Regions from separate parts of the Homo sapiens genome. Here all the other regions are linked to region 3. Evidence: fine-mapped expression QTL. A gene starts in region 3. Each other region holds a variant in brackets. All regions are shown on one strand. Distances are from middle to middle. Region 1 overlaps TMTC1 (transmembrane O-mannosyltransferase targeting cadherins 1). Region 2 overlaps TMTC1 (transmembrane O-mannosyltransferase targeting cadherins 1). Region 3 holds the start of TMTC1 (transmembrane O-mannosyltransferase targeting cadherins 1).

Evidence for each region.
Region 1: its variant is fine-mapped to the expression of TMTC1 in whole blood (INTERVAL, PIP 0.99).
Region 2: its variant is fine-mapped to the expression of TMTC1 in liver (GTEx, PIP above 0.99).

What each region holds. Positions count from the first base shown.
Region 1 is chr12:29,674,014-29,683,614 of GRCh38, forward strand. All of the region lies in intron 5 of TMTC1 (transmembrane O-mannosyltransferase targeting cadherins 1), which reads right to left. Among named protein-coding and RNA genes, the nearest start is that of TMTC1, 110 kb to the right of the region's middle. The variant A/G (reference allele first, on the strand shown) is at 5,937.
Region 2 is chr12:29,659,916-29,671,191 of GRCh38, forward strand. All of the region lies in intron 5 of TMTC1 (transmembrane O-mannosyltransferase targeting cadherins 1), which reads right to left. Among named protein-coding and RNA genes, the nearest start is that of TMTC1, 120 kb to the right of the region's middle. RefSeq lists an enhancer at 2,796-3,297. The variant G/A (reference allele first, on the strand shown) is at 5,401.
Region 3 is chr12:29,776,241-29,787,141 of GRCh38, forward strand. TMTC1 (transmembrane O-mannosyltransferase targeting cadherins 1) reads right to left here and starts at 7,702. Exons shown (of 18, transcript NM_001193451.2): 1 at 7,210-7,702. The coding sequence starts at 7,511.

The DNA.
Region 1 (9,601 bases), 100 kb before region 3:
CTCCCAAAGTGCTGGGATTACAGGTGTGAGCCACCACGCCCAGCCTTGCCAGAGGGACTTCTCAGGGTCCCTTTATGTTATGCTCTCGAAGGACAGTACTCTTGACAACACAGAGGCAGCTGGTGTGGTGAAGCAACCACAGGCCCTGGGGTCACAGAGATCTGGGTTTGAATTCCAGCTCATTCAGTTATAAGCTAGGAGACTACGCAGGCCTTTTAGCCTCCCTAGGTCAAGATAATTTCCACCTTACAAAGTCATCAAAAATATTTCTATGAGATGATATATGCAAGTGTCTCACCACAGTGCCCAGCACATAAAGGTGCTCAAAGTAGCATTATTAGAATAGTAACCAGAAATCAGCTGAAAATACTAAAACCCTATGGCCTATCCTTCAAGACCAGAAAAAAACAATCAGAAACAAATGAGTAAAGGAATGCAGCTAGGATTAGTAGAGGAAAAGATTTAATCTCTCTCAAGTTCTGTCAGCTCCCTCCTTCCTGGAAGGAAAAGAAAAAAAGAACGAAATATTTTCCTAGAAGACAAAGCTATAATTCAGCATTCAACACTCTTCTTGCTGACGGGACTCCTTTAGTTCAGCTGTAAAGGTTGTCCATGCACAAGGCAGCCAGCTCAGGAGGAGGGAGGGAGGTGGCCTGTGAGGGCTCAAATCCAGCCCATGCTCTGTTCAACGACCTGTGGTGCCCAGGCACTGGCTTTACCTGCCGTAAAGAAGGGGGGGCCTTTTCCTAATTTACTCAAAAGAGCAAGAAGTGCCCACACCTCAAACATCACGCACCCACCATGCCTCATGCCCACAGTGTTTTCTATTTTGCATAAAGATCCCCAATGGGCCAGCAGCAGCCCTGATCTACTACTATGATTATTACTTAATACCCACTAGACAGCTTCATTGTCCTAATGATTTTCACAGGGGCTTGTTTAATCTAATGTTTCCATTTTCTTTGCAGCCAATTTCATTTTCTCACTGACATATTACAGCAGTGTTGCTATATTTCCAGTCACCGGACCATGTGCAAAGTAACTTAATGTTAAAATGAAGAATAACATTGGTTTCTGTCTTAATTCAGCTAAGTTTCCCTTGCAGATTCAGCATGGTACTTTGTACAGTAGTCATTTAATTCATCAAACTGTGTTTAAAAAAATCCTAACCATACAAGTCTTAACACCACATTTACAAACCCCACAAACATCAGGGCCCAATTTGAGACTGTTATTTTAACAAACACAATTTTCCTGTCCTAAACTTAACTCAAGTCCAACTGAACGTCCACTGAAAGTTTTCCAGTCTAAAGTTTCCAGATCATAGAGATTTTCATACATGAAGCTGGATTTTCATCCAGTGTGACCAACCCATTCAGTTTGCCTGGCACTAAGGAGCTTCGTGGGACACAGGACCTTCAGTACTAAAACTGGGACAATCCTGGAAAAACCTGGTCACCCTGTGTGCCATCCTCTAGTAAGCTGGTACAGTACAGTAGAATAAACTGCTAAGGAGTAGTTCTGCAAAAGTCAAAGAAAAAAGTGGTTTCTCTGTGCCCTGGACACACATGCAAATACACACACACACACACACACACACACACACACACACACACACCCTCCATGACTTTCTGTTTCTTGTGAATAAGAGTTTAATCAAAAACGAGTGTTTCTCTGGTGGAAGATATCTACTAATTGGTTCAACTTGTTAATTCTGAAAACATGAGAACTAGAATTTTCTCACCCACGCTTTCCAGCTGTCAGACAAATCTTTTCATCTAACTTGGATGAGCCAATATAAGGTATTCTTAATAGCATTGTTCCATGAAAGTAACAAAATGGAAAGGAGGGAAGGAAGAGACAAGGGTTTAATAACCATTAAGACTGTACAGAGTCCCCCTCTGTGTGCAATCAATGGAATTATAATGACTTTGTTTAGTGGATGATAAAGCTGCCTGGTTGATTCTAACAGAAGCTGATATTTCAAAAACGAAATTGAATCAAGCTTACGCCATTAATTAAAAGGAATTTGATGGTTTTCATTTTAAAGCACACCATATCTATAAAGGATGGACACAATAGTGCCTAAATAATCTTAGCTGCAAATAACCTAAACATTCAACAAAACTAAAATTCCAAAACCTCACACTTGTAATTTTGAAACATTTATCTGTTCATACACTGCTACGTGTGTCAGATATCCATTTTAATTTTTAAATATTGGTTAGGACTTAATTTAAAAGTTTGTGAGTTTTCCTATTTTATGTAACTTTCTTTTACTACCTTTTCCTTGTATATGCAAGCTTTATTGACTATAAGATTATCCAAAATGATTCCCACTCTCCTTAAATATGAAGACTCCAATTTTCTGGGTCCTATCACTATTATCAGCACTCAGTGGTCTCTTACTCTGACAAAAGAACCAAACTGTAAAAGTTAAGCGAATACTTCAGACTGACAAAAGCAATAGATGTTAATCAGGAGAGAATCAAACTCCAGAGCATATATTTTGATACATCCTTTGCTCAAGTAGGAAACCTGATGCCTGCATTCCTGCCATAGTCAGTCAGAGATCGATTTCCAGGGATCCCATCTACACTCTGCCTTCAAACGAAAGGTCACCTCCAGGAGCGATGCACTGGGCACAGTCTCTCTTCAAGACGTGAGGACACGGCAAATGGTGCTAATTCCACTAGGCAGGGGATTAAAAATCATGATTGATCACCAATTTTCTAACTAGCACTCTATGAGAAACTGATAGAAGATGATGCCCTCGTGCAGCCAAATGAAGCATTTTGTGGGCATGCTGGAATGAACCCTGAAGCCAGGCCATATCAGTGTGGGCAGTTGGGGAGTCATTAAGTCTTGACAGAGCTGGCTGGCATGCCACAGTGTGTGAAGAAGAAAAACATCCTGTCCTCCTATAATATGATTTGAGGGCCAAAATAATACAATTCACATCAGGCCCTCCAGAGGAGATGCAGACAAGGTCCAAGTCTGGTCCTTCTGTGGAAATGAAAGTACTGACAGGCACACAGATATCCCTCTGCCTAAAAGCATTTATCATTTTAAGCCATTAGGATTTTCAGTTCCACCTTCAAGAAAACAGCATAAATAAATTCACTGGCCTCTAATTTTGCTGTTTCTCTTCTTTATCTAGTCAATGTAATGGGTTTCAGGATCAAGGTTATTACAAATAAAAATAAAATCAGATTTGCAGCATGAATAACCCTTTATCTGCATGTCTGTTTAGTACCTTGTGATTTTTTTGTTGTTGTTTATTTGTTTTTGTTCTTACCACATCTTAACAGGACCAATGGGCCTACTCACTAATAAGCACATCCTGCAGTTATTTCCATACATAAAATATGTGCCATAAAATATGCATAGAAGCACAAGCAACCCAAACAAGATAAATGAATTAATCCTACTGTATGAGCCATTCTCAGACAACTAAATGATTTAATTTCTTCATTTACAAAAGACAACTATTCCATCGTTATACCGCGGTAGCCCCCTTTATCTGCAGTTTCAGTTACCTGCAGTCAATTGCCGTCCAAAAATAGGAAATGGAAAATTCCAGAAAGAAAAAATTCATAAGTTTTAAATCACATGCCTTTTAAGTTGTTCCGAGTAGCATAATGAAATCTCACATTATCCCACTTGGTCCCACTTGGGAAGTGAATCCTCCCTGTGTCCGGCATATCCACTCTGTTCACCCATTAGTGATGTAGCAGCCAGCTCAGTTATCAGATCGACTGCCGCAGCATCACAGTGCTTGTACTCAAGGAACCCTTATTTTACTTAATAATGCCCCACACATGCAAAAGCAGCGATGCTGCCATATGGCTATAATTGCTCTATTTTATTATGTTATTGTTGTTAATCTCTTACTGTACCTAATTTATAAATTAAACTTCATCACAGGTATGTATATATAGGAAAAAACGTAGCAATAGTATGTCTAGGATTTGGTACTATCCATGGTTTCCGGCATTCACTGGAGTTCTTGATACGTATCCCCCACAGATAACAGGGAAGTAATTTATTTTAGAAATTTAATAAACTAATATTTCTGCAACATTCTGAAACTCATTTACTGAACAACTTCATCTGTTGGTGATACATACAAGAATCAGAGATGAACAAAAGTCACTTCTGAGCAATCAAAACTAATATTTCAAACTCACAATTTTCTGACTTTCATTTCTAAAACAAAATAAAACCATAGAGAAGTGCTGCTATACGGTGGCTGAGATTGGCTTATAGTTCTCCAGATATTACTTCTTCTTCCTGAGCACACAACTTCTCTGCTTTGCTTACAGTTAGAGATGGCCATGTGACTGAATTCTAGCCAAAGGAAGGTAAGTGGACGTGACAGGCAACAATTCCAGGTCTGGCCCCTAAAATCTTCCCATAACATTTAAACACCCAAACATTCTCTTCCTACTTGATGAAGACAAGCATGGTGACCTCCAGCCATTGTTTGAAGATGCAGAGCCACAAGATTGAGGGACAGTGGGTTTCCGAATCATAGTGTAGAGATGAGGTGCCACTAATCAGGGACATTTGTTTCAGACTTGATGTGAACAAGAAATAAGCTTCTACTGTGTGTGAGCCACTGTTCATGGCTATGGTTATCTTAACTAGTGGAGATGCCAATAGTAATGAGAAGTAGCATCAAAAAGCAAGGAGAAATCTATAAATTCATCTTTTGGAAACAAATGTGAGATGCTCTAAAGAACTTAGGTAAGCAACATTAGTGTCTCAGTATTTACAAACACTACATTAAAAAAACTATAACAGAACACAATGTGAATATGGCTACCATGAAATGGAAAAAAAAATCATGGACTTCCCATGGGAGTAAAAATTTGTACAACTGTAGAATTTTGTCTGAATAACAATTTGGCAACATACATCAAAACCTAAAACATTTCTCCAACCATTAGCAATCACACTCAAATCCGAAATGCACAGAAAGAGTTATGTCCATAATATTTATTAATAAAAAACCTGGATACAACCTAAATATCTAATATAGGTGAATAGCTAAATAAATTTTCATACAACCATGCAGTGCAATATCATTCAATGATTTTAAAATTATCTTTAGAAGAATAAAGACATGCAGGAACACTCATTATATATTACTAACAAAAAATAAAAGAATACATGACAAAGCAACACATTCAATATTCATCCAGTTGCTAAAATGTATATATGTACAACAACAGATTAGTGAGCTATGCAGCAAAACAATAATAGAGGTTTCCCCTGGGTATTGATATGATTCATGTATTTTAATCTTTATTTTATAATTTTCTGTAGTTCTGAATTTTTAGTAATTAACATGAAATACTTCTATAGTCAGAACAAAAGTCAGTAAACGCTATTATTTTGTAAAATTTCTTACAAATTAAAAATAAGGAAAGACAGAATCTCTAAAATCAGATATAAGAACTAAAGATCAAGGACCAGACAAAAATATGTTAGGCCAGCTCAGAAACCTTTATGGAATGGGCTATTCTAATAGCATTCCTCTATAACCAACATTCATAGTGATGATGCTAATATACTGCTATGGAGTGATCGCAGATAAAGGAAAAATGTGTACAACATGCTATCATTTATCTAAGTAGGAGGCTATATACATTAAATTAAAGCTAAACCAAACTGAAGAAGAGAAGAATAAAAAAAGAAAGAGGAAAAGAAGGAGAAAAAGAAGAAAGGGTAACCTATAAGTAGAGGGATGAAACAGGATAGAGAGGACTAGAGAGACCTCAGGACTAGAGAGACCTCTTTACTGTACCCTGTTTTGTAGATTTAGAAGCAGTGTTTACATTATTATGAAATAAAAGAAAAAAACATGAAACAAATGATCCATAATCATAAACTATATAAAGTAGGTTTAAATCTCAATAATTTGACCATAT[A/G]TACCTAGTACTATATAACTTAAAAACAAAAAGAATTATTAAAAACCCCACACACTATTTTTAATAATCACTTTGTTTCTGGTAATGATGGCATTGTTATTTTGAGACTTCTGGGAGTAATGTGGAATAAAGCAAATAAGTAATTACGCTGGTGTCGTTAGGAACCAGAGTTTTCAGTGGCAGCAAGGGAGACAGAAATGTACCATCAATGAGATTAAGCAAAATCCCTATAGCTCTGAATTTGAATAGAAAACATCAGACTGAGCTCGTTATCTATTTTCATATTTTAAAAGATAATTGATTTTGACAGAAGTCTCCACTGAAAAAGCCTAGAAACAGTGAGCTATCCAGTAGGAATGAGCACCACAATGCCCTGATTTGGGTCCTAAAATTATTTCCAAAGAAAAAGAACCAAAAGCTCTTGAACAAATGGCTGTTTCCAGGTCGGAGGTAGAAAATAAATAAGATGAGGCTGGGTGTGGTGGCTCAGAGGGAGAGTTAGAAAAGAATTAATAAAGCCCTTTCCTTTTATACATAAGAATGTGACTTTTAGTTAATTTTCTCTCTGTTCCACTAGAAATCAGATGAAGATAGAATGCCAACTACGTTACAGTCAATATTGCCTATGGTAATATTATCCCTGATTGATAAACTGCAACTAAACAAGGAGGAATTATAAATGTCCCATAAATACCTGATGAGAGTGGTGTAATTTGGGCTTCCCTGAATGTGTTAATTCTTGTAATTGGGTATGTCTCTTATGTGAACACTGGAAGCCTGTGGAGTTGTTACAAGAGATATGGTGCCTTGTGGGACATGAGACTCTTAAGTAGGGGCAACCCCTGAAACTGCCAGATGAGAAGTAAACTAAATAAGCAATGAAGGTCTAACTGATCCCAGCACTTTGGGAGGCCGAGGTGGGTGGATCACTTGAGGCCAGGAGTTCGAGACCAGCCTGGCCAACATGGTGAAACCCCATCTCTACCAAAAAATACAAAAATTAGCCGGGCATGGTGGCACATGCCTGTAATCCCAGCTACTTGGGAGGCTGAGGCAGAAGAATCACTTGAACCTGGGAGGCAGAGGTTGCAGTGAGCCCAGATTGCACCACCGCACACCAGCCTGGGCAACAGAGTAAGACCCTGTCTCCAAAAAAAAAAAAAAAAAAAGAAACAAGATGAACATGAAATATCTGGAATATAAAGCATGACAACTGAAGTCATATAAAGTAACTTAGAGTAGTTCCTGTGGACCAAGGTGGAATATTTGAACATTAGTAAGAATAAAAACAGGTAAAGAAAATGAAAGAATCAAGCATTTGTCCTGTGTTGCCTATATAAACTGTACCTTCCTCTCAGGGTAATCAAATGTCTCATGAAGGAATGTCTCTCTTGATAGATATTCTGGCTAGTAAATTAAGAGAGAATACTAGAATTAGAATTTCAGTTTTTCAACCAATACTGAAATAACGGACCTAGGTATATGGCAACTCACTTCACAAAAAGAAAAACAACCAGAATTATTTACTTCCTCCTAGAAGTACACAGCACCATCTATGAAGTATTCTAACCAAAAAGAGAAACCTTGAATGCACTCAAGCCTCTAGATCTAGCTGTGAACTTACAGGAAATTCAGTGGACAGAGGCACACATCAACTGACATCATAGGGCACAGTCAGCAAAATGCAGATTGTGGGAAGTGTTACAAGGCCCCTCCCCCTCCCACCCCCACAAAAATAAAGGCAAAAGCAAAAGAGGAGAAAGAGTGAGATGGGAAGGTGGAATCTACAGATTAATAGAGACTTTAGAGGCATATCAACCAATTGCAATGTATAGAAATTATTTGTATATGGTTCAGAATACACAAGTGAAAACATGAAATGAAGGGAAATGTAATGAGTAATTGCCCATTTAATGATATTAGGATTTAGTGTTAATTCCTTTACATATGACAGTAATTGTTGAAGGTGAAAGATGAGGGGTTTATTACACTTATTTTAAAAATTGTGTATATGTTTGAAATTTTAACTAAAAACAGTGTTTTTTAAGGATACTTATTTGATAGAGAATTAGTATCTATAATAAATTAAGAACTCCCAAAACTCAACAACAACAAAAAAGGTGATCCAACTAGAAAATGGATAAAAGACATGAAGTGGTGTTTCACTACAGAATATATACAAATAGCCAATAGATGGCCAATGTCACTAGCCATTAGGGAAATGAAAATAAAACCACAATGAGATAATACTGGTATCACTAACCACCTACTAGAACAGCTAAAATGAAAAATAGAGCAATATCAAATACTGGGGAAGTCCAGAGAAACAGGATCTCTCCTATATTACCGTGAGTCACTCTGGAATATAGTTTGGCAGCGTCTTAAAAAGCTCAACATACAGTTACCATAAAGCCCATCAGTTGCACTCCTGGGCACTTATCCCAGATAAATAAAAAATGCCCACACAAAAACCTGTACATGAATGCTCATGGCAGCTTTAGTTGTAATAGCGCAAAACTGAAAGAAAAAAAATTTACTAAAAAAAACCAAAATGTACCACAGTCTGTGAATGGTTAAACAAACTATAGTACATCTGTATTATGTAACACTTCATAGCAATACAAAGGAAAGAATTATTGATGCAGTCAACAACTTGGATGAATCTAAAAGACATTATGGTGAAAAAAAGCCAACTGTAAGAGACCACATAATGTATGATTCCATTTACATCACATTCTCAAAGTGACACAAGTACAGAGATGGAAAACTGATTAGTGGTTGCTAGGACTTAGAGTTGGTTGTGGGGTAGAGAGTGGGTGTAACTACAAAGAGACAGCATGAGGGAGATCTTTGGGTTGACAGAGTAGCTATATATCTTGAGTGTGGTGGTGCTTACATGAATCCACAGATATGATAAAATGGCATAGAACTATACACACATATTGCATGGATGTCAATTTCCTGGTTATGATATTGTACTATAGCTATGTACAATGTAACCATTGGAAGCAACTGAACAAAGGGGATAGAGAATCTCTCTCTACTATTTCTAGATTTTCCTGTGCATCTGTGTTATAAAATAAACAAATTTTCTTAAAAAGTTAAGCTAACCTAGTTCTAAAGCCTGTGTCTTTTCCCTTGTGCCATGCCACCTCATTACTAAAGAACAGTAAACTCAAAGCATGAACAGATATTAAAACATAGATTCAACATCTGCAGCTGGAGATGGTTACCCTTGTCGGCAAATGAATTACCAGAACTCCTGGCTTCATTCCTTTAATGTACAATACCAGGTTTAGGATTCAATCACGAGGTCAAGAGGGTTTAAAACTGAAATCAGTAGAAACTCTGACTTTTAAAAAGCAAAGTCAAATTCATTTACATCACTCTTCCCAAAAAAGCATCTAGAAACAGAATCCCAAAAAGTAGAAGAAAGAAGATTTAAAAAGAAAGAAGTTAGGATAAACATTATTATTCCAATCCAGAAAGAAGTAATTTAAAGAAAATCTTGAAGCATCTGAACTAAATTATACTCATCAAATTCTACATAAGCCTCAACGCAAAATATGCTTTTGTGTGTCTACGTGTGTATACGCAAGGGACCCGCAGTCAATTGTGTGTAACATAAATAAACACTAAATCATGGTCTCTCTTGCCACAGCAGT
Region 2 (11,276 bases), 120 kb before region 3:
TCCTGCTCTGAAAAGAGGGGCATAGATCCTCCCATTATCCACAGACGGAAGTACAAAATGACAAGCACCTTCAGAAAATAAGAAGATTCAGTGAGATTGCCACCAATAATCTCCACCCTTTTTGCAGGTGCATTCTGTTCCTCTAACAGGGAATGAAGTCAGTCACCCCTTCCCTTAAATCTGAGTTAGTCTTGTGGCTGGCTTGTACTGACCAACAGAACATGCAGAAGGTACCTTACCTCTGTTCTGGACCTAATCTTTGGGAGGTGCAGCAACTTTTAGTTCATTCTTTTAGAAACCAGCTGCCATGTGGCAAGGAAGTCTTGACTACCCCTCTGGAAAAAGAACTAACAGGGAGAGGCCCTCGGGGATGAGATATCACGTAGAGGAGAACTGAGATGAACTGGCTCAGACGATAGCTGAATAAACTTCATTGAGTAACCTCAGCCCCAAATCATGATGATCAGAAGAACCGAAAAGCTGAATGCTGCCCAAACTAAAGCAGGTAGGGCAAATACAGGGTTGTTATATTTAAGCCACTAAAGCTGGGGGTGGTTTGTTATGCAGCAATAGACAACTGATACAGCCAGGATTGCACTGCCTCCTCTTGAGACAACTCAGCCTCAGCATCTTGAAAGGGACTCATAGAATACTGCAGTTCACATTGTCCACATCATTAAATCCACATATCCCTGGAATGCTTTCATATATACCTTTGGACGCTTTGTAACATTACGGCATGCCAACTGTTTGATCCCAATGTCATGATGTTAGAGTCTATTGCTGATTCTATTAAATAATTTGAATTACATGTCTGAGCTGAGATAGAGTGGAAACATTCCTTATCAGATATTTCAAAAGTATATATATATATATATATATACTTACATAACTTAGGACCAAAATGGCCCTTTTTAAAAATGGTCTCATGGTAAGCAGGAAATTTCTATTGCTGCTTGCTCTCAGATACCTAAAACGGGAAAGAAAAAAAATCTTAGATAAGTGTGTCTACCAGACACAATGTTCTCCTTTCAAGGTGAAGACGCTGCAGCTCTGAAGAAGGCTGCAGAGAACAATGCTGAGAGCAGGGCCTCTGGAGCCAGAACACCTGGGTTTCCGTTCCCAGTTCTGCTGCTGCTGAGAGCCCAGGAGACCTCGGGCAAGTTTCCGAACCTCTTTGCACATCTATTTTACTCACTTATAAAAGGGAGACAATAATAGTATCTACCTCACAGGAAAGTTGGGAGGAACAAATGAGATAATATCTAGAACAGGACTCAGCTCTGTTAGCTATAAATATTACTATCCCATCGAATCCCAAATAACCCAGTCATTTTGAAAACAATACAGTTACACTGGTCACAGGGATAATCTTAAACAAAATAAGAGTTTATTTACCTACTTAATATAATTTGAAGGCTCCAATGTCTTCCATCCACAAAATACCTCACAGATCTCTTACCTCTAAAAATAGAAGATGCCAAGGTTGTAGGAGGTTAAGTAATTTTTTTTTTTTTTTTTTTTTGAGACGGAGTTTTGCTCGTCGCCCAGGCTGGAGTGCAGTGGTGCGATCTCAGCTCACTGCAACCTCCACCTCCCAGGTTCAAGCGATTCTCATGCCTCAGCCTCCCGAGTAGTTGGGACTACAGGTACTTTTTGTATTTTTAGTATTTTTGTATTTTTAGTATTTTTGTATTTTTAGTACAGATGGCGTTTTGCCATGTTGGCCAGGCTGGTCTTGAACTCCTGACCTCAGGTGATCCACCCACCTCAGCCTCCCAAAGTGCTGAGATTACAGGCGTGAGCCACTGCACCCACTCAGTTAAATAATTTTTTTAAGGCAACAAAGTTATGAGTATCTGTGTTAGGATTAGAGCTCACTGGTATCCAGTGAATAATTTTCTCACCTCCCTGTGGTTCTTGGAACCAAACTAGGTTACAAGAACGTCAGCTTCTAGAGGGGCAGGAACCTGTGTGGATCCTGCCCTGCTGTAGCTTACTCACTTATAGGAATTGGGAGTTCTGGATATCTACATATAAGACAAGTGGTTGGCTGGTTTTAGAAAAAGATGATGAAAGGGAATCAAGAGACGGTATTAAGAAGCCCCAAATGAAAACATAAAATAAGTCATAAGTCATTTTCACCTACATGCAAAATTCTACACGGAAAATACAGAATGGAGGGGGAAAACAAAAGTCAAATCAAATAGCATAAACCGCAAGCACTTCCCACCTCATCCTTATTTCCTCTATCCCTTTTCATTGTTTTTTTCTCCTTTTTAAATCCAATTTTTCCTCAAAGGGGTTTTCCCCAACAAAATTTGCATTAAAATCTGCATGAGGTCTCTTTACACAAAGGTAATGTTCTATAAGGTAAGAAATCCTTTTGTAAAAACCAGAGTGGGTTAATATCTCACAAAGAAATGTCTATCCACCTTGAGGATTGCTTACAATGGCCAGGTGAGGTGGCTCACGCCTGTAATCCCAGCACTTTGGGAGGCGGAGGCAGGCGGATCACGAGGTCAGGAGTTCGAGACCAGCCTGGTCAATATGGTGAAACCCCATCTCTATTAAAAATACAAAAATTAGCCAGGCGTGGTGGCAGACACCTGTAGTCCCAGCTACTCGGAAGGCTGAGACAGAAGAATCATTTGAACCCGGGAGGCGGAGGTTGCAGTGAGCCGAGATCGTGCCACTACACTCCAGCTTGGGTGACAGTCCAGCTTGGGTGACAGAGCGAGACTCCGTCTCAAAAAAAAAAAAAAAAAAAAAGAGGATTGCTTACAAAACACATGTGGCTCCTCTGCTTTGTAACAAATGGTACTGTGAGGAGGTGAGAGCCTCACGCTTCCTTCTCACCTCTCTTTTCCTCTGCCTGGTCCATAAAGAGCTGTGGAAGTGATACATGCTCAGATCTGGCCGTTCAAGTATTTAATGAGTGGAGAAAACGAGGAGTCCAAAAAACACAAAAGAGAGTTGGCTTTTAGCAAGCTCTGGACTGGATCCATCCTCAAGCACTGCATTTAAATCCCTTTCATCTTCCTTAGCTGCCAACAGAGAGCTTGACAAGAAAGAACACCAGGGATACTGTCAGCTCTCACAACCCACGGGGATAGCTACTGTCCCAAAATGGGCTTTAGGGGGTCCGCTGCTTCCTGAAATTTACACAAGATTTTGTGTGTATTTTTCTGAGGCAAAGTCCTTGACTTCGATCTTTAGTGTCAACTGGGTTCTTCGTTGCCTAAAAGGTAAAGCCCTGCTCAGCGTCCTTCTCTCAGCTCTGCCTCTATTGTGACTATTATTTTCAGGCCAACTCAACCACGACCACTCTGGTTATTTCTGCTGTTCCTTTTCAGGATGTATCAATGGCAGCAGAAAGGCAAAGAGAATGACACAGTGGAAATGGAAAAGGTGCTGGGGAGGGCTGGAGAAGTAATACATCTGAATAAAAAGGCACTTTCTGGGGTGATCTGCTTCTGGAAACGTCCTTCCTCAAGTTCCCTCTGTTGCCTGTTTATTTTAACATAGTGGAAAAATTAGCAGTGGTTTTCCTTTCTATAGAACAACAAACCACAAAGTTTAGGATATTTTTAGGTAAATTTTCCTTTTCTTTTTTCTGAAACAGAGTCTTACTCTTGTCGCCCAGGCTAGAGTGTAGTGGCGTGATCTCAGCTCACTGCAACTTCTGCCTCCCGGGTTCAAGCTATTCTCCTGCCTCATCCTCATGAGTAGCTAGGATTACAGGAGCCCGCCACCATGCCTGGCTAATATTTGTACTTTTAGTAGAGACAGGGTTTCGCCATGTTGGCCAGGCTGGTCTCAAACTCCTGACCTCAGGTGATCCACCCACCTCGGCCTCTCAAAGTGCTGGGATTACAGGCGTGAGCCACCACACCCAGCCAATTCTCCATATTTTGTTTCTCTGAAAGCTTGCTATGATGGCTATTTCACTGAGTCATATTTGTAAAGTGTCCCCTGGTTTCCTGAGAAAGTCCATTTCTCAAGAAGCTAAAGGCACCAAATAATTTATTGTTAAAATGTAGCGGCGGATCACGAGGTCAGGAGATCGAGACCATCCCGGCTAAAACGGTGAAACCCCGTCTCTACTAAAAATACAAAAAATTAGCCGGGCGTAGTGGCGGGCGCCTGTAGTCCCAGCTACTTGGGAGGCTGAGGAAGGAGAATGGCGTGAACCCGGGAGGCGGAGCTTGCAGTGAGCCGAGATCCCGCCACTGCACTCCAGCCTGGGCGACAGAGCGAGACTCCGTCTCAAAAAAATAAAAATAAAAAATAAAAAAATAAAAAAATAAAAAAAATAAAATAAAATAAAATGTAGCATCCCAATGTAATGAAAGCCTAAATTGGTAAAGAGAGCAGTGGACGAAAAAAAAAGATGACCTCTTCAAGATTTCTATTTCTAGTTGTTGACCAATAGTAAATGAGAAAGTAACCCAAAATAACATGGCCCTCTTTTTTGGTAAACACTAGGTCAGAGGCTGAGATCCCTAAGCTCAGACAGGAGCACTCTAAGGGCTAAATTCTCTGCATCTTTTCCTCTTCCCCTACCCACACCAAAAATAAACAAACTTTCCCCATCAGTCCAATACACACGATCTGTGAAGTAGAACCAAATAACAACACTCAATAACAATACTATTAACAGCAATAATAAAAATAGCAACAACTAATATGTCCCAGACACTAATCTAAGTGATTTGAGTGTAGTAACTTATTCACCACTTACAACAATTCCATGAGGAAGAACATTATAATTTCTTTCTTCTAAAGGAGGAGAACATAAAACTGGAAATAATACTTAACTATGACATCAGATTCTCTCAGCTATTCATTGCAACTATAAGATAAAGTACCTAAAATTGTCTTCAAATACAATTTACTATGTAAATGCTATTACTATTTTTTTCTAATTCCAGTCAAGTTCTCCATTCTTTTCCTTGCAAAGCCAGAGAACATGTCAACAACAAAACCAGACCACTGATGAAACCAACAGAATGAGAACTAAGGGTCCAGGGTTCTATTCCTCTGATCCCATCTAACTTGTCACATGATGTAAAATAAATCTACCTGAGCTTTACTTCCTTCCTTTATTAATGAATGTTAGACCAAATGGTCTCAGGGTCAGTTTTAGGTCTAAAATATTGTGATCCTTGGATGTTCTCACCAACTGATGACACCAAAACTGACGAAGGAAAAACGAAGAAACTACCCAATTTCAAAAAAAAAGAGAAAGGAATGTCAAGGGATTCGTGAAAAGTCAAATATTAGTTGACCCTTCACCTGGAGGAGGCCCTTCAAAATTTGAAGTTGCATATGAAAAAACAGTTGAACATTAATCGAGGGTATTGGCATCAAGGTTATTGGCATTGTAAAACAGTATTT[G/A]TAACAACTTCTGATTCTTGCCAAATAAAAGCAAAAGACTAAGGTTAGCCATAGTAAATTCCCTAATCTACGCTCCCACATACCCAAATTTTCTGACTACTCACATCCACCATCCCAGTATATCATGTTCAAATAAAGGTCAAGTTTACCATCCATAGTTACTTGGTCCTCAAATCCTATTGAGAGATATTAGCAGAGATCAGAACAACCAGCCAACCATAATCATCTACCCACCCATAATCTTGAGAACTAAATAAATGCTTATTATAAATCAATGACCTTTGTTAACACAGAATTATCACGTCAATAAATAATTGATCATATGACAAAGTTTCTTTGTTTGACCAAAACCTAGTCAGGTTCCTGAACCTTCTCCTAGGCCCATCTGTGTACTTTCTTGTAAAATCCAGTCTTAGCGAGAATCCCGCTAAATCAGTTTAGCCAGAAACCCCCACCATCAGAGCTGATCACTGTCAATATCTAATCAAGTTTTTCATCCTCCACCGTCTCCCAGGAGATGTCTCATCACCCTGGCCTATCTTTAGGAATAATCCTGTTAGGTCTATTTAGCCAGAATTCTCCCTTATTCATGATGTTTTCTCTTAGTAATTTTCCATCCACTGATGCCCCCCCAACCCACCACACCCTGCTCACTGGCTATAAATTCCCACTTGTCCATGCTATATTCAGAGTTAAGCCCCAACTCTCTCCACTACTGCAAAATTCCATCACAGTGGTCTCCGTATCAATTGCAACAGACCCATCCTCACCTTAAGGTTTTCCTTACAGTGCTTTAACAAGTGTTATTTGAATATTTTTAACACATATAGCAAGATGATCAATAAATGCTTACTGAGCCAAATCAAATTGTAAACATCTACCCCTTTTCTTTTCTTTCTTTTTTTCTTTTTTCTTTTTTTTTTTTTTTTGGAGACGGAGTCTCGCTCTGTCACCCAGGCTGGAGTGCAGTGGCACAATCTCGGCTCACTGCAAGCTCCGCTTCCTGGGTTCATGCCATTTTCCTGCCTCAGCCTCCTGAGTAGCTGGGACTACCACCATGCCTGGCTAATTTTTTTTTTGTTGTTGTTGTTGTATTTTTAGTAGAGACGGGGTTTCACTGTGTTAGCCAGGATGGTCTCGATCTCCTGACCTCGTGATCCACCCGCCTCTGCCTCCCAAAGTGCTGGGATTACAGGTGTGAGCCACCACACCCGGCCTACCCCTTTTCTTTTTCTGTGTTTTCCTTACCCTCTCGTGGTAGATCAGGGTACAAAATAAAAGTGCTCACAGTTTGGAATGTGGCAGCAAGTTGGAAGAGAAAAACCACTTTCCACTGGAAATGGTAATAGTGCCATTTCCCTTACCCGGAATACTAATGATTTCAATGAAGATATGAAATTAGTCTTTCCAGCTGTTCTCAGAATCTATAAACACCTGATAATTTTTGCCTAAATGTCAGCTCCAGGTAGCAAACATCTCAGATACAATGAATTGTAACTGTTTAACATTATAGCAACAAATCATAAACAGTGATATATGAAATTTCTTCTAGAACATCAATCTTAATTGACTTAACTTCCTTTGCTCTTTCAACGCAAAAAGGAAATTAGTAAAGAGTCACATATTCAGATCAAAAAAATGTTTTGGAATCAGAGCTTTTTCAACAGAAATGCAGATTTACTGCTTCTCTTTGAAACTCAAGAAAAAAGATTTCTCAGTTGATCAGAATATAGCAAAGACACAGCTCACATCAGAAAAAAAGCAAAAGCTTAACAAAAACAACAAAAGAATTTTAAGTGTCTTTTGACACTTAACAATAAAGGAAACTTAAGTGTTTATGGGTTCTCTCTTTAATGTACTTTCCTTGAACCCATGAAGTGCCTCGTCTAAACCTTAATAGGCAAAGGCATTCCATGGAGGAGTCGAACAACCTTTGATGTCTCCTTTGATATTCAAATAAAGATTCTGAAGGAAAGGAGCTCACTATTCTAAGAAAACAATGATGCATATTTCAGTTCTATCTACTCAGAAACTCAGACTGACCTTCAATACCCCATTCTAAGGCTATGATAAATTTTCCTTCCAGAAATTTTAAACTCTGAATTCAAGTTACTTCCAAGGAAACAGTTACTTCAATTATCATATATTAAACGGTGAAAATGACGACAAAGAAGCCATAGGAGAAAATAATTTCAGTTCTCTTAACCATTCTGCAAATTAAAGTTAGAGGTGAAAGGAATCAAAACAGCTCATGTAGTTTTATAATGAGGGAAAAAAATGATGCCCAGAAATGTTACTTGGCCTGCAAAAAGGTCATGATGTTTCAGTGTCAAAGGTCAATGAGTTTAAGCTTCATCAATTTACTTAGAGGACCTTATTTTTATTCCCTCTATGATTAATTTAGTTGGAGGCCCTAGTTTTTTATTCCTTCTACAACTAATAGCAAAAATTTCAGACATCACCCTTGTCTCTCATTAACAGTCCCAGGGAAGTTTCAATTCATTAGTGATGGCAGGTACTGAATCCATTTAATAGGCACTAATCACTGTGCTAAGCACCTTACCATTTTTATTTCATACTAGCCCTGTGAGTCCATACTTGTCCCTGTCTTGCAAATGAGGCGGAGGAGGTACTTACTCAGGGATCTCATGGCTGGCAAGAGGCAAAGGTGAGACCCAAATCTAAATCCAAATCAAGCATTCACTACTCTGTACAGCACAGAAGTAAAATAGAGCTGGTTTATTCAGCATGTTTCCAACACAGATCATTGTTAAACTGCATTTCTGCATGTTAACAACACAATGACTTCTGTCTTAGTCTGTTCATGGTGCTGTAATAAAATACCACAGACTGAGTAACTTACAAAGAACAGAAATTTATTTCTTCTAGTCCTGGAGGCTGGAGAGTGCAAGATCAAGGCACCAGCATCTGGGAGGCCTGGTGAAGGCCTTCTTGCTGCATCCTCGCATGGCAGAAGAGCAGAAAAGCAAGAGACATAAACTCTCTCTGAAGCCTCTTTTACAAGGGCGTTGACTAATGCACCTCCCAGAAGGCCTCACTCTTAATACTACCACAATGGGGATTAAGTTTCAATGCAAATTTTGGAAGGGATTCCACATTCAAACCATACCAACTTATCTTTTTTTTTTTTTTTTTTTTTTTTGAGATGGAGTCCCACTCTGTCACCCAGGCTGGAGTGCAGTGGCACGATCTCAGCTCACTGCAACCTCCAACTCCCAGGTTCAAGTGATCCTCCTGCCTCAGCCCCTCTAGTAGCTGGGATTACAGGCACATGCCACCATGCCTGGCTAATTTTTGTACTTTTAGTAGAGACAGGGTTTTGCCATGTTGGCCAGGCTGGTCTTGAACTCCTGACCTCAGGTGATCCACCCACCTTGGCCTCCCAAAGTGCTGGGATTACAGGCATGAGCCACTGCTCCTGGCCCCAGCTTCTAATTAATTAAAAGTGATAAAGATCATTTCAATATCTTCTTCAGTTCATACAGTTCTACAATGAAGGCTTTTCATACAAATGAATGAAGTTAACAGTGCACAATTTTTGAAAGTCCTTTTAATAAGCACGCTTTTAAAAGTTAACGCATGTAGTGATTGCTGCAGGTTGAAACACAAGTGCCATCCATGTACCGTGGACTCAGAAATTCTAAGTGAGAAAAAATGGTAAGAAGGAGAATGAGCAGAGCTGGGAGGGCGTCACTGTGTGGTGAGATGGCCAACCAGCCTGTCCCACAGAGAGAAGCAACCAGCAGAAACAGGGAGTGGGACAGATGAGGATGCTCCAAGTGACAAATGTAGCTGACACCTGAGGAAGATGAGAAGTGAATTAGGTGCAAAGAGATAGAATATGATATATATACAGAGGCCTAAGATTGAGAGGGCAAGCTCAGAGGGAGAAAGTGAAAGAAGTCCATATGGCTGGAAGATCTAATACTGGTACAGTGGTGAACAGAGAGACTAAAGTGGTAGGCAGGGGCCCTTTCACTCCGGGACTTCATGGCCCATTGTGGAGTTTAGACTTTATTCTGATGGCAATGGACAGTCAGTGAAGGGCTTAACACAGAGAGATAACCCCATCTGATTTCCAATAGTGCAGTGTTAGCATTGCATGACATTGGTAGAGTGCCCACTCTGAAGTCCATAACAAAGAACAAGAGGTCCAGCAGCCTCAAGGGGGACATGGTGAACACCAGGAAGTAGACAGCTATTTTGGAAATTTCCGAGATACCAGATGTAGAAACAAATAAGAGGTTCTCGTTCAAGTAGATAGAGAGACCTTATCATAAGAATAAGTGAGAAAAGCATGTGTTACGTTTACTTAGCAGTATGATTTAGGTGTTAAGTATGTTTCTACTATAATCTTTTGTTAGTTGGTCATCAATTTGGTATATATAAAAACTTGCTACTAAGAAGAATATTTAATTTGCCAAATAAACTCCCTTTAGAAGAGGATACATAGTATGTATTTGTATGGCATTTATGTGTCAAAGAGCTTTTCGATTCATTCTAACATTTAATCTTTGAGATATATTCATGAAGTGGGCAGAACAGAGAGAACTGGCCCCATTGTACAGATTTAGACCTAGGGAGCAGTGGGTCTAGCACCAGGATTGAGTCTCCTGATGGCCAATTCAATGCCTTTTTGCTGCATCACTGGTCTCCTCTCTGACCACACATTTGCTGTGTTTTCCGTTATTTCCATCCATCCAAGTTTGTTGCAAACCAAAGACTAAATAATCCATGCAATAAAATCACTGCTACTTGCAATACACATTTGTGTAAGTGCACAAGTAGACGTTTGCACTAAGAAAAAGATTAAAACAGTCAATAGTACTATAATGATATTTTCTGATCCTTTTACTGGGATACATGGATGGATAAATTCAAGTATAATTAAGCTAGTGAAAAAGAGTATTTGATACTGGGACTGTCTGGGTAAACTAGTGAAATACATTTCCTGTTAATGACAGCAGCAAATACCATTTAATGAATACCTACTGTGCCCCAGGCATGGTTCTAATGCCTGTAATCCTTAGCACATTCCTGTCAGACGGGCACTATTAATATCTTAATGTTGCAAGTGGGGAAACTGAGGCATTAATGGTCAAATAACTTGTCCCAAGGTTCCACAGGTAGTAAGACAGGGGTGTCATAAATTCAGTCTGTGCCCTTAATCACAAAAGCTCTGCTACCTCTCACGGCATTTCCAACAAAATCTCTGTCTTTACCGTCCCAGGAGGATGCTTGAAATTCAAATACTATTCTCACAGATGTTTGTACACATCAGTGACATACATTTGAAAGGACATGAATTCAGGGTCAGTGTGGTGGCTCATGCCTGTGATCCCAGCACTGTGGGAGGCTGAGACAGGCAGACTGCTTGAGCTTAGGAGTTCCAGACCAGCCTGAGTAACACTGCAAAACCTCATCTGTATTAAAAATACAAAAAAATTAGCCTGGCATGGTGGCACATGCCTGTAGTCCCAGCTACTCAGGAAACTGAGGTGGGAGGATTGCTTGAGCCCAGAAGGTGGAGGTTTCAGTGAGCTAGCTGAGATCGTGCCACTGCATTCCAGCCTGGGCCACAGCACGAGACTCTGTCTCAAAAAAAAAGAAAAAAAAGGATAGGAATTCAGGATACCAAGATATACCTGATCCATTTAAGAAATTATCAAAAAGTCAGCCAGGCGCAGTGGCTTACGCCTGTAATCCCAGCACTTTGGGAGGCTGAGGTGGGCGGATCACGAGGTCAGGGGTGTGAGACCAGCCTGACCAGCATGGTGAAACCCCATCTCTACTAAAAATACAAAATAAAATTAGCTGGGTGTGGTGGCATGTGCCTGTAATCCCAGCTACTTAGG
Region 3 (10,901 bases):
GAAGAGTAAGATCCAAAAGCGCTACAGATCTTCATTCTCTACACAGAGTTACAGTTCCAGCAAGTTCCAATAGAAATTCAAAGTCATCCCTTTCAGAATCTCTCAGTAAACAGAACCCATTGGTATCCTCTGTATACATCTGAGGAAATTCCTAGTCTGCCTCCACTTTTCTCTTTGAGAAAGAAAGAACAAAGGTAAATTAGTGAAAAAGTAAACCAAGCAGACTTTTTCTCTACATTATAATCATGTAGCCTTACCTTAGTATTTACCTGAAAAATCTGAGCAGTCACAAAAAGGATTTATTCATTCTTTAAAAAATTAATTCATTTTTAATTGACAAATAATATTCCTTCTTTCAATGATAAATCTTGAGTCCCTACTTTGCAAGCCAGGCTTAGTTGTAGGTGCTAGAGATAAACCTCATGGAGTTTACACTGTAGTGAGGGGAGGTAAAACTCAACAAAGCAGGGTAAGGAAATAAGGGTAAAAAAACACAGAGGAGTGTTTGCTACTTTGATCACCTGGCCACCAGGGAAGGCCTCCGGGATGAAGTGACATTTAGGCAGAAACCAAAGGTGGTGAGCACATAAGCCCTGCACAGATCTGGGGAAAAGCATTCAGGAGGAACCACCAATACATGCAAGGCCTTTGGTAGCAGTGGGTTTGGCCTGTGCAAAGAACAAGGGCTCTGGAATGCTGGTGCAGAGAATGAGGTGGAGATTGGTAGACTAGGGATCAGAGAGGTAGCCAGGGGTCAGATCAAACAGGACTTCATAGAAAAGAAACAGTATCTTATTATTTGGGAAAGAAACACTGCCATTGTGTGGGCATGATCAGGCATTCCTTACCCCCCTCTCTCTCTTTTTATTTTTTTTAACAGAGTCTCGCTCTGTTGCCAGGCTGGAGTGCGGTGGTGCAATCTCGGCTCACTGAAACCTCTGCCTCCCAGGTTCGAGCAATTCTCCTGCCTCAGCCTCCCGAGCAGCTGGGACTACAGGTGCACACCACCATGCCCAGCTAATTTTTGTATTTTTAGTAGAGATGGGGTTTCACCATGTTGGCCAGGATGGGTTTGATCTCTTGACTTAGTGATCCGCCCGCCTCAGTCTCCCAAAGTGCTGGAATTACAGGGCATGAGCCACCGTGCCCGACCTCCTTACCCCTCTCTTTAAGTGAGATGATGACATACTCAAAGTTAGGAAAAATATGAATGTAGCTCCAAAGAAAGACAGAAAAGACATTGGTTGGTAATAATAGACTGCTTCGGAAGGTGATTTCCAAGCCTTGATTCAGGGACTCACCTATAAAAACCCTCATGAGTCCAAAAATATATTCCTCTCACTTTCTGTCCCTCCTACACTACCAGACTGTAGTCTATAAAGTATATCCTACTAGATTATAATCACAACCTCCACCTCTTGGAGCTTCCAAGATAACCTTAGGGTGGCATAAAATTTTCAAAGGCAGTTTTTCATTTTTCTTTATAAAATTTTTCTTGCCTCCAATCACATTTTCCCTTGGTTATTTCTGTCACTGAACATCCTAGACAATCTAGTCAAACATCCTAGAGAATCTTCACTTGTGTCCTATGATAGACTTAGAAAACAAACTTATCAGCCTTGTGGCAACAGGCTGTGTCAAAATGAAATCCCACAGAAGTTGAATGAAAAGGAATAGAAACAAAAGAAACATATCACCGTTTCTTTAAGGTTGTGGGCATGGAGGTTAGCTAGTGCTTATTTTCATGGTTGGCATACTATTTGTAACTAAAAGATGCAAACTACTGCAAAAAACCTTCAAGATCAAACATTAAAATGCTGTAAATTCCTACAGCTGCACATATTAAGATAGTCTATTTTTTGGCTCTGACATTTTAAACCACCCACTTTCACTCTTATGGTTTATATTACCATCAGAAGCTCTTAATAAAATAAAGCATTATAGCAAATATAATCTAATAGGCTAAACACACAGAGAAAGAATCAGGATTTTAAAGTCCTTTCATTTGCTTAGTTTCCCCATCTTTAACATTAAAAAATCATTGGTTCTTGCTTGTTGAAGCAGACTTCCACCTGCTTACTGAATGGAATGGCACTGCGAACAATTCAGCAGTATCTTCTTCCCAAGAGAAGGGTTGGGATAAAATTAAAAAGCTAAGTTTATTTTAAACCATTCTGGACCATTTTTCAAGGGAGGGGTTATGGACATCATAGAGTTTGGTTCTGTGTCAATTCACCCTCTACAGAGTAGCTTAATGCATTTCTCTTGATTTCAGGCTTACAAACAGGTCATGGCCAGGGAAGGAAAAAGAAGCAAAAAAAAAATGTTATTGCTGCAGAGTCACAGATGTTTTGATTCTGTACCACTATGGTCCAAAAATATTCTTGCATGCCCTTGGGCATGATCTTATGAAAAGACTGAATCTGAGATTTGACTGGAAACAGAAATTCATTGTAATTCTAAATTCACTTCAAGGAACACAAAGAGATGGTCATTTGTATCAGTTAGGGTTAGACTAGAAAACCAGAGCCACCATGAGTGATTCAGAAGAAGGGATGTACTATGGGGATCTGACCTTTTACTATTGCTGGGGCTGGTTAAATAGCCTATGTAAGTGTGATGCTTCTGTGTCTATTATCCAAGTTGAAAGCCAGCAGGGCAGCAGGGCCATTCTGGAAGAGAGGGTGAATGGACTTGAAGTAGGGGGAAGCAAAGGCAAAATGGAACCCACAAGGATGAGCTAAAATACATGTCTGTTTTCCACTGCCTTTAAGGCTCCAACTTTAACAATGCAAGAGGCTTGCAAAAAGACTGGCACTCTTCCCTGCAGAGCTGCATACACACCTGCACCATGATTCCAAGTAGCTGAAAGACGAGATCTGGAGAGCACTGGAGGAGCTGAGGGCCTGGGTGCTGCTGCAAACCAACAGCATGTTCACCAACATTTCTGTGACAAACTGCAAGAGGCCTGGCAGCAACAAAACCTATGCCAACATTCTGAATGTGATCTTAGCCACTTCACTTTCACCTTCCAAATCTTGCAGAAATTTTTCTTATGGTCAGCCCTAACCCAGATCATCTTGCAAAGGCAATTCCAAGAAACATAGTCCCAACTTAGCTAAAGTGACATAGTGCAAAGCCACCACATCTTGGTAAGCTGCTTTCATATTCCACTGTCCCATCCCCTCAAAACTGGTAGAAGTAGATGGTCTGCAACCCATTTCCTCATTTCAAATTTTAGTTCATTTCTTACTTGAAAAAATACATAATTAGTATCTTTACTACCTAAGCAAGCACTTTTATTATTTATTAGTATACAAGCAACCACCTTTATAGCAAAAAGTATTATGCATCTATAAATTACATTTATTCTTAAGGAAATTTCTAGCTCTCAGTATGCGTAAGATACATTCAATGAATCAAAAATCAACTTACATTTTAATAAAAAATATGTTTGGAGTATTGCACTGAGAAAGGTCCTGTGAGGAGGACAAAAAGACAAGCTACAGAGTGGGAGAAAATATTTACCAATCACATACTTGACAAAGTACATGTATCTAGAATATATAAAGAACTTCAATACTCAACATTTAAAAAAAACACTTAAAAATGGACAAAAGACACAAAGGCACATTTACCAAACTCTTTGGTTTAATATCAGATGTTCAATAGCTTCACCCATTAGGGAATGGTAAATTAATGAGGTACATATATAGGTGTGATATCACTACATACCTATCAAAATGGCTACAGTAAAAAACAGCAACAATACAAAGTGCTGGCAGAAATGCACAGAAACTGGATTACTCAGACACTGCGGCTAGGAACATCTGGAAAACAGTATGGCAGCTTCATATAAAGCATATGAACATGCAGCCACCATATGGCCCAGCAATTGGACTCCTGGGCATTTAGAACAGAGAAATAAAAATCTATGTTTACATAAAAACCTGTAAGTGAATTTTTATAGCAGCTTTATCCCAGCCAAAAGTTGGAAACAACCTAGATGTCCCCAACAGGTGAATGGTTATACAAACTGTGGTATATCCATACAATGGAATACAACTCAGCAATAAAAAGGAACAAACTATGGATACATGCAACAGCCTGAATGAAGATCCAGAGACATGCTGAGTGCAAGAAGCCAATCTCAACAGGTTACATACTATGTGATTCCATTTATACAACAGTATTAAAATGGCAAAATGATAATGGAGAACAGATTCATGGTTGTTATGGATTTGGGTGAGGGGATTATGGATTAGGCAGTTGTTATAGATTAGGTGTCCATGATTGCAATAAAGAAGTACTGAGGATCCTTGGGATGGAATTGTTCCGTATCTTGACTGTGGAGGTACTCTCTGAAATCTACACATATGATAAAGCTGCATAAAACTAAATACACACTTAGTAAAATAAAAAAAATAGAAGTACATATAAAATGGGTGAAATCTGACTAAATGCTGTAGATTGCATCAATATCAATTTCCTGGTTGTAATATTATACCATAATAATACAGGATGTTACCATTGGGGGAAATGGATAGAGTAGAAGGAATCTCTCTATTATTACTTAAAACTGCATGGGAATGCACAATTACATTAAAAAAGTTTTTAAAACGGGTTTGAAATCTCAAAGTTTTTGCTCAAACAAGCATAATTTAAGATACAGTTAAAATGGTTTGCACATATTTAAAGGGCCCCTTCAATTGTGTTTTCACTATCTAAAATAAAAATCATAAAGACGTAATCTATGTGAAGTATCTAGGCCAATGCTTGGTTCATAGCGAATAGTTAATAAATACGGCTTTCTGTCCTTCCTTGTACCATCCTGTAGAGTTGTATGGTTCTAAAATCACTGATATCCTCCAGCTTCATGCTATACCTCAGGTGAATATAAAGAAAACTGTCCAGTCTTATTTAAATCAATGCATGTGAGGACAGAAAGACTACTTAACATTCTCTTTCTGAAGAGGCAGTTATCTCTTTCCAATTAGTGCTGTGTTTCTCTTCTAGATTTGCAACTCAATCTTCTCAAAAAAAGAGTGTATCTTTCATAGGCAGTAGCATATAATATACAGCAAGCCATGCCTCTTAGACACCAAGCTGCTTGTTACAATCAATGATTACCACAAGAGTCCCTCAGCTCTCTTCCTCCTGAATCCCCCAACTCTCCTTTGCCCTTGTTCTGTCAACTCCTAGCCAATTTTCCTCTTAATCAATGGTCTTACTTCTTTGTCTACTCCCTCCACCCCTCCCTTATGTGCCTGCTGTCTCCATTATGAAGAAAAATAAAACATTTTAGGTGAGGTACAGTAGCTCATGCCCACAAGTCCAGCACACTGGGAGGCTGAGGCTTAAAGATCGCTTAGCCCAGGAGTTCAACACCAGCCTAGACAACATAGGAAGACCCCATATCTACAAAAAAAATTTTAAAATATATCTGGATGCACGGCATGTGCCAGTAGTAGTTCCAGCTACTTGGGAGGCTGAGGCAGGAGAATTGCTTATGCCCAGAAGTTTCAGGCTACAGTGAGCAATAATCATGCCACTGCACTCCAGGCTGGAGGACAGAGTGAGATCCCATCCCAAAAAAGAAAAAAAGAGAAAAGACAGAGAAAAAAGAAGAAAACCTTCTAGAAAGTCAAGAAGTGAAAACACCCTTCCCTACTCTCCAGCAAGTAGGCACAGGCATTTGACTCTGCCCTTTTTAATTGAAAAATACTCAGACCTGTGACCAGGATGGTCTCCATGGCTGTTACAAAGATAGCAAGCACATCTCATGCTGTGAACTTGCACATCCTAAATTAACCAACAACCCTGACTGTAATAATGAAAAAGCAGGTCAATCTAGAAGTGAAACATTTATATTTGTCCCAAGGAGATTTTAAGAAACATCTGGGAAACTGAATAGCGAGGTTAGCCAAGGTTATCTTTCAGTAGAAAACGAGAACAACTTTCTAAGAGAACAAATGTCTATAACACATTCTCTTCAAAGTCAAATATGTAATTTTCTCACTCTCCTTAAAAACATTAAACTTTCAGTGGAAGACGTAAGTCAAAAGCCCATGAATTGTTGCCGATTGCTATGGTTTCCTTTTCTGAGTCATCAGAGACACCTGTCAAGAGGCCTCAGCCTCTCATCCAGAGCAGGCTTTTCAAGCTGCCAACCCAGTCTCAAATAATCATTACCATAAACACGGGTTCCTATTACACCCGTTGCAAAAAGGCTTAAAACGCCGATAATAGCGCACCAATATTATTTCAACAGTTTTGACCGGCGCGTTAAAATGAACTTCAATGCTGAGCCACATTATAAAGGGTTGAGTCAAGCTCCTGATTGTGTAAGATAGCATTTCCCTTAAATGAGCACTTCTCTTCTTTCCTCAGAAGCTAGGCTTCTTTTCAAATTAAAGAAAATACTCCACCCCTCAAAAACCTGGCATATTCTCGGTTCCCTTTACGCTTATTCACACCAGAAACGCTGAATCATGACTCCGAGGTTGTAAAAGAAAAACTATTTCGGCTGGGGCCCCAGGGTCCCTGGAGAAGCCTAGGCTCTGCGTTACCTCTCTCTGCACCTTCTAAAGTCTAGATCCAGAGAAGTCTGGCAGATTGGAGAGCCTCTGGGAGCAGCCAAGGGTGCAAGGCGGGGGCTGGGGGGCTCGGGAGAGTTTTCTGCTCCCTCTCCTGAACCCACGCAGCCCTGTCAGCTCAAGGCTCCCGCCTCGTCTCATCTGAACGAAACCCTTAAGGGGCTGATACACTTCTCATCTGCAAAGCTGCCCAACAGCCTCCGAGAAATTCTCTACTTGGAAGCATCGCCACCACCGCCACCCCTCCGGAACCCTCTGGGTCCGCGCTAGTCCCACTTGGTCACGATCCGGCAGGCGAAGGGGTGCGGAGGCGGTTTCACCAGCCCGCTCCCAGCCCTGCCTCGAGAGAGAAGCCCGCTGAGAGGGCAGACAGTTGAGAAACTCGATCCCAACTCCCCAGCCGGCGCCTCCCGAACCGCCCCGAGAGCCCAGATTAGCCGGGCAGTGGATCCCGGAGCAAAGTGCCATGCACATCCTGGAGAGGAGGGAGGCGTGGAGGGAAAGGGCGGCAAAAATGAAATGCCCCCAAGTCAGTCCCGCAACTTCTCCCGGTCCGAGGGACGGGCGGAGGGTAGAGGAGGCAGCGGCGGCTAGCGCGAGGTGAGGGACTCACTTGAAGGTGAGGACGCAGAGCGGCCGGTAGGACTTGTGGCTGGTGTTCTCGGCCATGCCCTTGCCCCAGAAGTCGTTGGTGAAGATGCCCCAGCGGAGCGGGGCGCCGGGCCGCACGTCGGGGTTGTTCACGATCGCCCACACGTCGTCGTGCACGAACTCGCCCTGCAGGGAGCGGCCGTAGCACAGGCAGCTTGCCCCGGCCAGCAGCGCCGCGGCCCCGGCCGGCGCTAGCCCGCAGCCCCGCCGCCGGGAGGGTGTGCGGTCCCCGCCGCCGCCTCGGGCAGAGGTGGTCACCACCATCGCGCCGCCGCCGCCGCTGCTGCCCTGGCCTCTCCCGGGCGTCTGGCATCCTCCCCTACCGGGGCCCCGGCGGCGCGCGGCGTCTGCCCGGAGGGGGGCTCGGGCATGGTGCTGCGGCAGCTGGACCCGCCGCGAGCTCCCCGCGCTCCGCCGCCGCCTGCGCCGCGGAGTTGGCCCAGCTGCAAATAAACAGCAGTCCCCCCGCCTCCCCCGGCCATCGCCACCTCCTCCGCCCCACTGCGCATGCCCGCTCGCTCTCTCTTCCACCGCCCCCCAATCCCGGGACGCGGGCCGGTTCCCCCGCACAGCCCGGCGCCCTCTGCCCCCGGCCCGCCTTGCTTGCAGGTGGACCGGGGTTCGCGGCGCGCGGCTGCCCGGGAGCTGCGGGGAAGGACACCCCAGGTTCCCACTTGCGGTGTCCGGCTGTGCTCACCCCCACGCCCCCGCCCCCATCCTTCTCCCCCGAATGGGGCTGGGAAGGGGCACATCTGGCGGACCCCTCCCGGGGGACCCAGGAGGGTTTAGCAGGTGCGCAGTCTGGAACCCCCACACCCACCTTCCAGGGAGAAAAGTGCCGCTGCTTCCCGGGAAGTTCCCGGCTTTTCAGCACCCGGGACAACAGCAGCGGCGCCCGGAGAGACGCTCTCCACCCGCCCCGCGCTCGCGTCCAGTCGCCGGCTCTGTGCTCTCCTGCCCGGGCTTTCTCTCACCCGCCCGGCGCGGCGTCCCGCTTGGCGGAGGAACCCGCGGGGATAGGGAGCACCTTCCTCAAAGCCAGGAGAAGGGGTCTCCCTGGACAAGGACATCCTGCTCGCCCTGCCCGGGTGTGTTCAGAGGCGCCACCGGCTCTTTAACTTTACAGCCCCTTTCTTGGCCCGCACTTACAAAAAGTACCAGGTTCGAGTTTTGGTTTGGGCCTGGGAGCCGAATTGTCTTCTGAAACATTTCTTATTTTATTGTTTGCTCAAGATAATTTGGGAGATGCCAAGCAAACTACTTTTTCTATCTAGCTGGATCACTTGGGTCTCATTATTTCCTGGGCTGTGGGCGTGTTTGAACAGGGCGGGGAAGAAGGTGGGGATGGGGGGATGGGGAGGTGGGGGCGATTTGTATTAGGGCCTCTGGCTTTGGCTCCTAAACTTCCTGTCTTTCTGAAAGATTGTTTTCTTTTTTAAAATACTAATTTTAATAATATGTCCCAGAGTGATGATTACTAGAATTTCTCCAGGTCTGAAAATTCTATTTGTTCTTTCAGGCACCTTCTAAATTTCCATTGCTGAGTGTTAGAAGTTATCAGGAATTTGACACATCCAGATAGAAAAACTGAAAATAAAAAGTCACCCTTTTATTCTCATCCTCCCCAAACCCTTAAAAAGCTCACCGACATAATCCAGAAATTGTTCCTCTGCTATGAGTATTTGTGTGGCTCTTTACTATAACAACTTACTTTTTAAAAAATTTTAAGACATCTGAGCAGTTGAAAAGTCAATGAATTAAGATAAACTTATTGTAACTCAAAGTACGTTTCACCCATTTTCACTTTGTTTATTTGGTGACTTGAAATTAGTGACTGAGAAATGAAACTGGAAGTCCTGGACATGGATGTTTTCATTCTTCCATCAAAATCTTTCACGCTTGGTAACCTTAATATACCGACTTTAATATCTAGACACACCTGAGTCTATTTCCCCGTATAACACACTACAGCCTTTCCTATTCACCTATTAACTTAATAAAAATATATTAAGGAGATTCTTTGTGCTACAATGTGCTAAGTATAGGATTGGAAGACCCAAAGCTGCTCGTGTGTGTGCGTCTGTATGTGTGTGTGGTTAACACCATAAAAGTCTAGCTTTCTAAGTTAACAGCTGATTGGGATAGTGAAATTATCTTTGCTGAAATCATAGTTGAGGTAATAGGTCAATGTATCAATCCTTACCTATAATTAACGGAGGCTTTCTAGAGAGAACGTCTTAACCCAAAAGAGTGACTCTAGGCCAGGTGCAATGGCTCACACCCGCAATCCCAGCACTTTGGGAGGCCAAGGCAGGAGCGTTGCTTGAGGCCAGGAGTTCAAGACTGGCCTGGGCTACAGAGTGAGACCCTGCCTCAAAAAAGAAAAGAAAAGAGTGGCCTCTAATAGTAGATTTTTATAGAAAGAAAGTCTTTTTTCCTTCCTCAAATTATCCTTAAGTCATCCTTTTCCAAGGAAGAGCTCTGGCTACCCCCTTCTTCTCGGAGTTGTTTTCTTTTTTAGATGGAAACAGTATCAGAGTGCTCCATGACCATGGAGAGTAGTGCAGGACTTGGGACTGAGACTCCAAAGAGATCATAAAAAGAAGAGATAAAGGAAACCTGAAAGTAGGATTCCTGGTTACCTAATCTTTCCTCTAGGTTCAGTGGCATCTTTATTCTATTTTGCTCAGATGACAAATTTGAGATTGACTTAAAATAGTGAAATGCTTCAAGTCTTCTCAAGGACAACTGATCAGTGAATATTTTTAAAAATTAGTTCCTTCGGGCCTGGCATGGTGGCCCACCCCTGTAATCCCAGCACTTTGGGAGGCCTAGGTGGGCAGATCAGGTCAGGAGATCGAGACCATCCTGGTCAACATGGTGAAACCCTGTCTCTACTAAAAATACAAAAATAACCTAGGCGTGGTGGCACGCGCCTGTAGTCCCAGCTACTTGGGAGGCCAAGGCAGGAGAATGGCTTGAACCTGGGAGGTGGAGGTTGCAGTGAGCCAAGATCACGCCACTGCACTCCAGCCTGGGGACCGTGTGAGACTCTATCTCTAAAAATAATAATAATAATAATAATAATAATAATAATAATTAGTTTCTTTGCAGCCTCATCACCTCCTGATTCAATACTGCTCTGTGTGGTAGGAAAAGTATAGAAGTACTGATGTCAGAGAGAGGTTTACATTGATATGCCAGCCCATCAAGCCATTTGCTTCTCTCTTAAAGTGGAAAACATCCATCTTGACTAATAAAGGGGCCCAAAAGGAAGTTAGATTTAATTCTTGTTACTTAGCCTCTAATTATTTTTAAAGGATTGATAATTAGCGCAATACTACCTCCTGAAACGCCTTGTGTCCACTCAAAAGCAATTTATAATAAAACATGAATTATTGTAGAAGTACCTCTCTGAGGCTCATATAGATTAAGTCACTCATGCAAATTAAGATGGACCATATTTCTGAAAGAGATTAGGACACAACTAAAAATAAATCAAGGGCAAGCTATTGTAATAAAACCAATTTCAAATTACTGCTAACAACAATTCTTTGCTTGACCAAACTTTAGTTAGTCTTCTGAAACTTCCTAGCACCATCATTGTACTTCCTTGTAAAATCCAGTTTTAGCAAAGAACACTACTAAGTCAGT